2 separate regions of the Homo sapiens genome follow, and region 1 is linked to region 2. The links come from fine-mapping of genetic effects on gene expression. A gene starts in region 2. The other region holds a variant in brackets. All regions are shown on one strand. Distances are between the middles of the regions.

Region 1 (4,522 bases), 21 kb after region 2:
GATAAATGTGTGTTATTTTGAGCTGTTAATTTGTGATAATTTGTTGTAGCAGCAGTTGAAAACTTGAAGCTTAGTCTGCAGAAAGTCTAAGGATGGATAAAAATGAATGAAGACCCTCAAAGCCGTGCCCCCACCTTATTATTCTCCTCTGGGTTCTCCTAACCCTAATTCTAACCCTATCTTCTTTTTTTTTTTTTATACTTTAAGTTCTAGGGTATGTGATCACAACTTGCAGGTTTGTTACATATGTATACACGTGCGATGTTGGTGTGCTGCACCCATTAACTCGTCATTTACATTAGGTATATCACCTAATGCTATCCCTCCCCTCTCCCCACCAACCCCACAATAGGCCCCAGTGTGTGATGTTCCCCTTCCTGTGTCCAAGTGTTCTCATTGTTCAATTCCCACCTATAAGTGAGAACATGCGGTGTTTGGTTTTTTGTCCTTGTGATAGTTTGTTGAGAATGATGGTTTCCAGTTTCATCCATGTCCCTACAAAGGACATGAACTCATCCTTTTTTATGGCTGCATAGTATTCCATGGTGTATATGTGCCACATTTTCTTAATCCAGTCTATCATTGATGGACATTTGGGTTGATTCCAAGTCTTTGCTGTTGTGAATAGTGCTGCAATAAACGTATGTGTGCATATGTCTTTATAGCAGCATGATTTATAATCCTTTGGGTATATACCCAGTAATGGGATTGCTGGGTCAAATGATATTTCTAGTTCTAGATCCTTGAGAAATAGCCACACTGTCTTCCACAATGGTTGAACTAGTTTATAGACCCACCAACAGTGTAAAGGTGTTCCTATTTCTCCACATCCTCTCCAGCACCTGTTGTTTCCTGACTTTTTAATGATCGCCATTCTAACCGGTGTGAGATGGTATCTCATTGTGGTTTTGATTTGCATTTCTCTGATGGCCAGTGATGATGAGCATTTTTTCATGTGTCTGTTGGCTGCATAAATGTCTTCTTTTGAGAAGTGTCTGTTCATATCCTTCGCCCACTTTTTGATGGGGTTGTTTGTTTTTTTCTTGTAAATTTGTTTGATTTCTTTGTAGATTCTGGATATTAGCTCTTTGTCAGATGAGTAGATTGCAAAAATTTTTTCCCATCCTGTAGGTTGCCTGTCCACTCTGATGGTAGTTTCTTTTGCTGTGCAGAAGCTCTTTAGTTTAATTAGATCCCATTTGTCAATTTTGGCTTTAGTTGCCATTGCTTTTGGTGTTTTAGACATGAAGTCCTTGCCTATGCCTATGTCCTGAATGGTATTGCCTAGGTTTTCTTCTAGGGTTTTTATGGTTTTAGGTCTAACATTTAAGTCTTTAATACATCTTGAATTAATTTTTGTATAAGGTGTAAGGGAGGGATCCAGTTTCAGCTTTCTCCATATGGCTAGCCAGTTTTCCCAGCACCATTTATTAAATAGGGAATCCTTTCGCCATTTCTTGTTTTTGTCAGGTTTGTCAACGATCAGATGGTTGTAGATGTGTGGTGTTATTTCTGAGGGCTCTGTTCTGTTCCATTGGTCTGTATCTCTGTTTTGGTACCAGTACCATGCTGTTTTGGTTACTGTAGCTTTGTAGTGTAGTTTGAAGTCAGGTAGCGTGATGCCTCCAGCTTTGTTCTTTTGGCTTAGGATTGACTTGGCAATGTGGGCTTTTTTTCTAACCCTATCTTTTTATACATTTTGGTGGATTCTCTTTAATATTTCCTCTAGAGTGTGTGTTGCAAATATCTTCTCCCAATTGAAGCTTGACTATTTTCTTTTAAATGGACTTTATTTTTTAGAACAGTTTTAGGTTTATAGAAAAATCGAGAAGATAGCACAGAATGCAGCTCAACTTTTCACTTTGATGATGGTTCCTTTGATTAGCACCATATTTTAGCTTAAAAATTGACTGCAAAAAAGTAAAATAAATTTATTATAGTAAAATATGCATAGTAGATTTACCATTTAACCATTTAAGGGTACAGTTCAGTGGCAGTAAGTCCATTCAAA[C/T]TGTGCAACCATCACCACCATCTGCCTCAAGAACTTTTTCATCCTCCCAAACTGAAACTTTGTCCCCATTAAACATTAATTCCCCAATCCTCCCTCCCCCAGCCCCTGGCATCCACCATTCTACTTTCTGTCCCATGAATTGGACTGTTCTGGCTTCTTTAAAAATTGAGGTGAAATTAATGTAACATAATTACCCACTTTAAAGTGTACAATTAAGTGGTATTTAGTGTATTCACAATATTGTGTAACCACTAGCTCTCTCTAGTTTCAAAACTTTCTCATCTTTCTATAAAAATACCCAGTACTCAAGGCCAGGTGCGGTGGCTCACGCCTGTAATCCCAGCACTTTTAGAGGCCGAGGTGGGCCGATCACAAGGTCAGGAGTTCAGGACCAGACTGGCCAACGTGGTGAAACCCCGTCTCTACTTAAAATACAAAAATCAGCCAGTCGTGGTGGCGGGTGCCTATAATTCCAGCTACTTGGGAGGCTGAGGCAGGAGAATCGCTTGAACCTGGGAGGCGGAGGTTGCAGGGAGCCAAGATTGCATCATTGCACTCCAGCCTGGGCGACAGAGTGAGACTCCATCTCAAAAAAACAAAACAAAACAAAACCCAGTACTCATATAATAATCACTCCACATCCTGCCTCCCCTTACCCAATGGCCAATACTCATCTCCTTTCTGTCTCTGTGGATTTACCTGTCTGTACATATCATATGTGTTAGTCTGCTAGGGCTGCCGTAACAGAATACCACAGACTGGGTGTTTAAAACAACAAAAATCTACTTTCTCATGATTCTGGAGCCTGAAAGTTCAAGATCATGGTGCCAGCAGGGTTGGCTTCTCCTGAGGCCTCTCTCCCTGGCTTGAAGATGGCCTTTTCTTTTTCTTTCTTTCTTTCTTTCTTTTTTTTTTTTTTTAGACAAAGTCTGACTGTGTCACCCAGGCTGGAGTGCAGTGGTATGATCTTGGCTCACTGCAACCTCCGCCTCCCAGGTTCAAGCGATTCTCGTGCCTCAGCCTCCTGAGTACCTGGGACTACAGGCATGCCCCACCACACCAGCTAATTTTTGTATTTTAAGTAGAGACGGGGTTTCTCCATGTTGGCCAGGATGGTCTTGAACTCCTGACATCAGGTGATCTGCTGCCTCAGCCTCCCAAAGTGCTGGGATTACAGGCGTGAGCCACTGTGCCTGGCTATACTTTGTTAATTTTTATGGCTGAATAATATTTCTTTGTATGGCTATTCCGCAGTTTATGAATGAATGTTTATTCATTCATCAGTTGATTCTGTTGGTGGCCATTTGGGTTGTTTCTGCCTTTTGACTAGTATATGCTGCCATCAGCATTCATGTATAAGTTAAGATTTTAGTTTTGGTGAAGACAAAATATCAGTCTTTTCTGCTTTTTGCTTTTTGTCTTGTAAAGAAAGCCTTTCATGCTCTGAAGCCATACAAATTTTCCTTTAAGTTCTCTAAAGTATTTAGTTAGATAATTAGTTTTTTATATCTGTGGGTTACTCCATCTGAAAATAATTTTTTTGTGATGTTTGTGGCAGGGATCTAATTGCAGTTTCCCCCACATGTATAGCCATTTGTCCTAGCCCTACATGGTGACTGTTTTTGTTGTTGGTGGTGGTTTTTTTTTTTTTTTTTTTTTTTTGAGTCTTGCTGTGTCACCAGCCTGGTGAGATCTTGGCTCACTGCAATTTCCACCTCCCGGGTTCAAGCGATTCCCCTGCCTCAGCCTCCCAAGTAGCTGGGACTACAGGCATGTGCCACCATGCCCAGCTAATTTTTTGTATCTTAGTAGAGACGGAGTTTCACCACGTTGGCCAGGATGGTCTTGATCTGCTGACCTCGTGATCCGCCCGCCTCGGCCTCCCAAAGTGCTGGGATTACAGGCGTGAGCTACCGCGGTGGGCCCATGCTGACTGTTTTATCCATTCTTTCTGGGTTGCTGTGTAACGTGTGTCAGGTATCGTATGTCCATATTTGCTCATATCTGTATCTGGGCTGTATACTCTGTTCCACTGGTCTTTACCTATCTCTGGGCCATTACTCCATTGACTTAATTACTGTTAGCTTTATAATAAATATTAATATTTGGTAAAGTATAGCAAGGCCTCCCATCTGGTGCTACTGCAGGAATATCCTGGCTTTCTGCTTGTCCATCTAAATTTCAAATTTGTGAGTTCCCTGTGCTCCTCCCCACACCCACCAGACTCAAGAGATCTCCTGCCTCAGCCTCCAGAGTAGCTGGAATTACAGGTATTTGCCACCACATGCAGCTAATTTTTAAATTTTTTGTAGAGACTAGGTTTTGCCATGTTGCCCAGGCTGATCTTGAACTCCTGGGCTCAAGTGATATGCCTGCCTCCACCTCCCAAAGTGCTGGGATTACAAGTGTGAGCCATTATGCCCAGCCAAATTCATGGTTTTTATTTTTATTTTAGTTTTAGAGACAGGGCCTTGCTCTGTTGCCCAGGCTGGAGTGCAGTAGTGCAATCAT
Region 2 (4,000 bases):
GTCTCTCCAAGAAATTCCTAGTGCCTGGCATAGTGTGGAGCTCTGTGGTCACAGTGAACACTAGCTGCCTGAATGGACTTCACCTCTCCAAAGGCTGGGGCCAGACCATATGGCTTCATGAGGCACCCCTTTCCTACTCTAGGTCTGCCTTCTTCTTCTTCTGCAGCTCAAACCCCACCCTGGGCTACAGGCTTTGAACAACTCGTGAGTCAGAAGCAATTCTCCTCCATTTGACAGTGACCACTATCAAGGAGAAACTCATTTTGAAAAATGTTTATTTACCTTACCTTTTCTTGGCCAAGTCAATTGCTTTGGTCATCTGCACAAAGATTCTAAACACTGGCTTTCAGCATTTCTTTTTCCAAGCAAATGAAATTTATCATAACAAGACAGAGCTCTGATTTTAGTCTCTGTGGAGTCTGGGCTCTGATGACCTAGGCTAGTCATCATCTAAGCCTGGAATGACTGTTTGGGACCCCCATGGCCAGCTTGAAGCTTTCCTTCCTCAGCCACTCTGGGCCCCTGAAGAGGTCACATGCATCTGTGGCAGAGACTGTATTATAACAAAGTTGTTTACCCCAAAGTCAGCAAACACATGTACCTAGAACTCATCCCAATTGTAGGTTGCTCACCAGACAGGTTACACGATGTGCACCAGTTAACATGCCATAGGAAAATTACATTCCAAGAAAAAGCAAAATGCTATAAAAACAAAAAAAACAAAACACCCAAAACAGCTCTCCCTCCTTTGATCTGATGGTCTGCAGAGGTCCTCAAATCCACACACTGCCACTCTTCAAGACCAACCGTCCACTGGGCCTTCTTAATCTCATCCAAAGTCGCATTCACAACTTTGACAGGAGCTTGGGTTCTTCATGTGGCAGCTGCAACCATGTAGTGTCTTCTCACTTGCAGAACTCTAACCTCAAGTCTCTCATGAGTCCCCAAATTCCAGGAAGCATAAAAAAACAGCAAAGCACACGAGTATACTTCCAAACTTTGAAAATACAATAAGATCACAGGAACAAATATGACCACGCAGCAGCGTACGTACTGTATAGGCCATATTCCTTTACGTGGGACATTAATGAAAAGCTGTCTTTTCCAAACTGAATGCGCCTATTAATAAAAAAATACACCTGACCATCTAATGCTGAAGTCATCCGCCAGGATGGTACTGGAAATTGAGTGGCTAATGTGGAGAAAACGCAGGCAGAAAAACAGGGGAGACAAAACGAAAGGCTCTCTTGGTTTGAGCCTGTCCAAGCAGCCACGACTCCTTATCAGGTGAACACAGTTCGTCAGTTGGCCACCTAAAGTACAAGTGGGAGAAATTCATCATCACAACATAAATTTTGAGCTTGATATTCTCATATCCGGGAGTCAAACAAACCCAACCACCTGTGCACAATGCTTCCACCTGCAGGAAGGTCATCGCAAACGCTCCAATCTCGTAACAACATTCACACGTTTCCAGCATGTACCTCCGCTTCACACCTCTCTCCCCCCACGTAGTGACCCACCAGGTCTACGTCCTGAAAATACTTCCAGTGGTCATGACTCTTTACAACAACATATCAAATTATTTTCTCTAATTACCTATGAAAAAAGAATGAAACCAACTCCGCGGAGAGCGTGGCACGGCTCTGCGCTCCCCTCCCTGCCTACCCAGCGCCTTCCACGCGGGACACTCCCCGCCGCGCTCCGCTCCAGACCCGCGCGGCCTCGCCGGCTCAGCAGCACTCGCAGCCGGCGATCCGCTGGTGCAGCTCCACGATCCGCCTGCCCATCCGCGCCGCCTCCGCAGCCTTCCTCTCTGCTTCGGCGCACAGCCGAGCCACCCGCTCCTCAGCCTCCGCACGCGGGCGGGGTGCTGGGGCCCGGGCGCCCCGCTCCTCTGCCTCCACCTCACTCTTGATGGCGTCGAGCAGGCTCTGGATCTCCAGCAGCTTCCTGCGGGCCCGCCAGTGCGCCCGGGCGCGCTCGCGCTCCAGGGAGGCCAGGTTCTCGCGGCCGGCGCGGGGCGCGGGGCTCAGCGGGCTGCCCGGCTCCTCGCGGGGCTCCCGCGCCTCGTCCGCGTCCACGGGCCGCATCACGCCGCCGCCTCTTCCAGCCCGCGGGGCACGCCGGGGCTGCTCACCAGCAGCGAGCGCGGAAGCCTCGCTGTCACCAACGACCAGACTAGCAACAGGTTGCCCCAACTTTCCGCAGCGAGGACGGTATCCAAAATGGGCTACTAGCCGTCGGCCAGGACGCTGCCACTGCGGCCCTTTTACGACACCTGCGGTCCTTTACCGCCACGCAGCAAGCGAGAACCGCATTCGGGGCTCCCGCCTCAGCGGTCCTGCGCGCGCACGCGCACTTGCACGCACGCGTACCCCCCCGCACGCATGCGCACCCCATGTCCCCGCCCGCTGTAGCGCCACAGCTCTTTGGGCGTTGATTCTAGGGTCAGGGCCCTCACTCACACTGCTGGAAGGTTAAAGTCGACTTCACGCTAGTTTAAGGAAATATCTGACGCTGATAACCATGTCCCAAGCACTGCTCTAAGTTCCCAATGTGTCCGGAATTGGTGGGTTCTTGGTCTCACTGACTTCAAGAATGAAGCCACGGACCCTCGCGGTGAGTGTTACAGCTCTTAAAGTGGCGCGTCTGGAGTTTGTTCCTTCTGATGTTCGGATGTGTTCGGAGTTTTTTCCTTCTGGTGGGTTCGTGGTCTCGCCGGCTCAGGAGTGAAACTGCAGACCTGTTACGGCTCATAAAGGCAGTGTGGACCCAAAGAGTGAGCAGCAGCAGGATTTATTGCAAAGAGAGAAAGAACAAAGCTTCCACAATAGAAGGGGACCTGAGCCGGTTGCCACTGCTGGCTCCGGCAGCCTGCTTTTATTGTCTTATCTGGCCCCACCCACATCCTGCTGATTGGTAGAGCCGAGTGGTCTGTTTTGACAGGGTGCTGATTGGTGCGTTTACAATCCCTGAGCTAGACACAAAGGTTCTCCAAGGCCCCAGCAGAGTCGATTGGTATATTCACAAACCCTGAGCTAGACACACGGTGCTGATTGGTGTATTTACAATCCCTGAGCTAGACATAAAGGTTCTCCACATCCCCACCAGACTCAGGAGCCCAGCTGGCTTCACCAAGTGGATCCCACACCAGGGCTGCAGGTGGAGCTGCCTGCGAGAACGGCACCGTGCGCCCACACTCCTCAGCCCTTGGGTGGTGATGGGACTGGGCGCCGTGGAGCAGGGGGTGGTGCTCGTCGAGGAGGCTCGGGCAGCACAGGAGCCCATGGAGGGGGTGGGAGGCTCAGGCATGGCGGGCTGCAGGTCCCGAGCCCTGCCCCTCGGAAAGGCAGCTAAGGCCCGGTGAGAAATCGAGCACAGCGCCGGTGGGCTGGCACTGCTGAGGGACCCAGTACACCCTCCGCAGCCGCTGGCCCGGGTGCTAAGCCCCTCATTGCCGGGGGCTGGCAGGGCCAGCCGGCTGCTCCGAGTGCGGGGCCCACCAAGCCCACGCCCACCCTGAACTCCAGCTGGCCCGCAAGCGCCGTGTGCAGCCCCGGTGCCCGCTCGCGCCTCTCCCTCCACACCTCCCTGCAAGCTGAGAGAGCCGGCTCTGGCCTTGGCCAGCCCAGAAAGGGGCCTCCACAGTGCAGCAGTGGGCTGAAGGGCTCCTCAAGTGCTGCCAAAGTGGGAGCCCAGGCAGAGGAGGCACCGAGAGTGAGCGAGGGCTGTGAGGACTGCCAGCACACTGTCACCTCTCACCAACATTCTAAATCATAAACACCCAGGCCGGGCGTGTGGCTCACGCCTATAATCCCAGCACTTTGGGAGGCTGAGGTGAGAGGATCGCTTGAGCTCAGGAGTTCCATACCAGCCTGGGCAACAAGGGAAAAAACCCTACCAAAAAAAACACAAGAAATTAGCTGGGCGTGGTGGCGCGTGCCGATAGTCCCAGCTACTTGAGAGGCTGAGCCGGGAAGATTGCTTGAGCCCAGCA

What was found. PIP is the estimated chance that this variant, and not a neighbour inherited with it, causes the effect. A credible set is the group of variants that fine-mapping cannot tell apart.
Region 1: its variant is the best candidate, but not a certain one, in a credible set for the expression of MRFAP1L2 in whole blood (Lepik 2017, PIP 0.60).

Annotation. Positions count from the first base shown.
Region 1 is chr4:6,651,473-6,655,994 of GRCh38, reverse strand. No RefSeq gene overlaps it. Among named protein-coding and RNA genes, the nearest start is that of MRFAP1, 13 kb to the right of the region's middle. The variant C/T (reference allele first, on the strand shown) is at 2,012.
Region 2 is chr4:6,672,306-6,676,305 of GRCh38, reverse strand. It overlaps MRFAP1L2 (Morf4 family associated protein 1 like 2), which reads right to left and starts at 2,231. Exons shown (of 1, transcript NM_138699.3): 1 at 259-2,231. The coding sequence starts at 2,093. The coding sequence ends at 1,734. LINC02482 (long intergenic non-protein coding RNA 2482) reads left to right here and starts at 2,425. Exons shown (of 2, transcript NR_134665.1): 1 at 2,425-2,622. RefSeq lists a silencer at 1,927-2,156 and an enhancer at 2,629-3,237.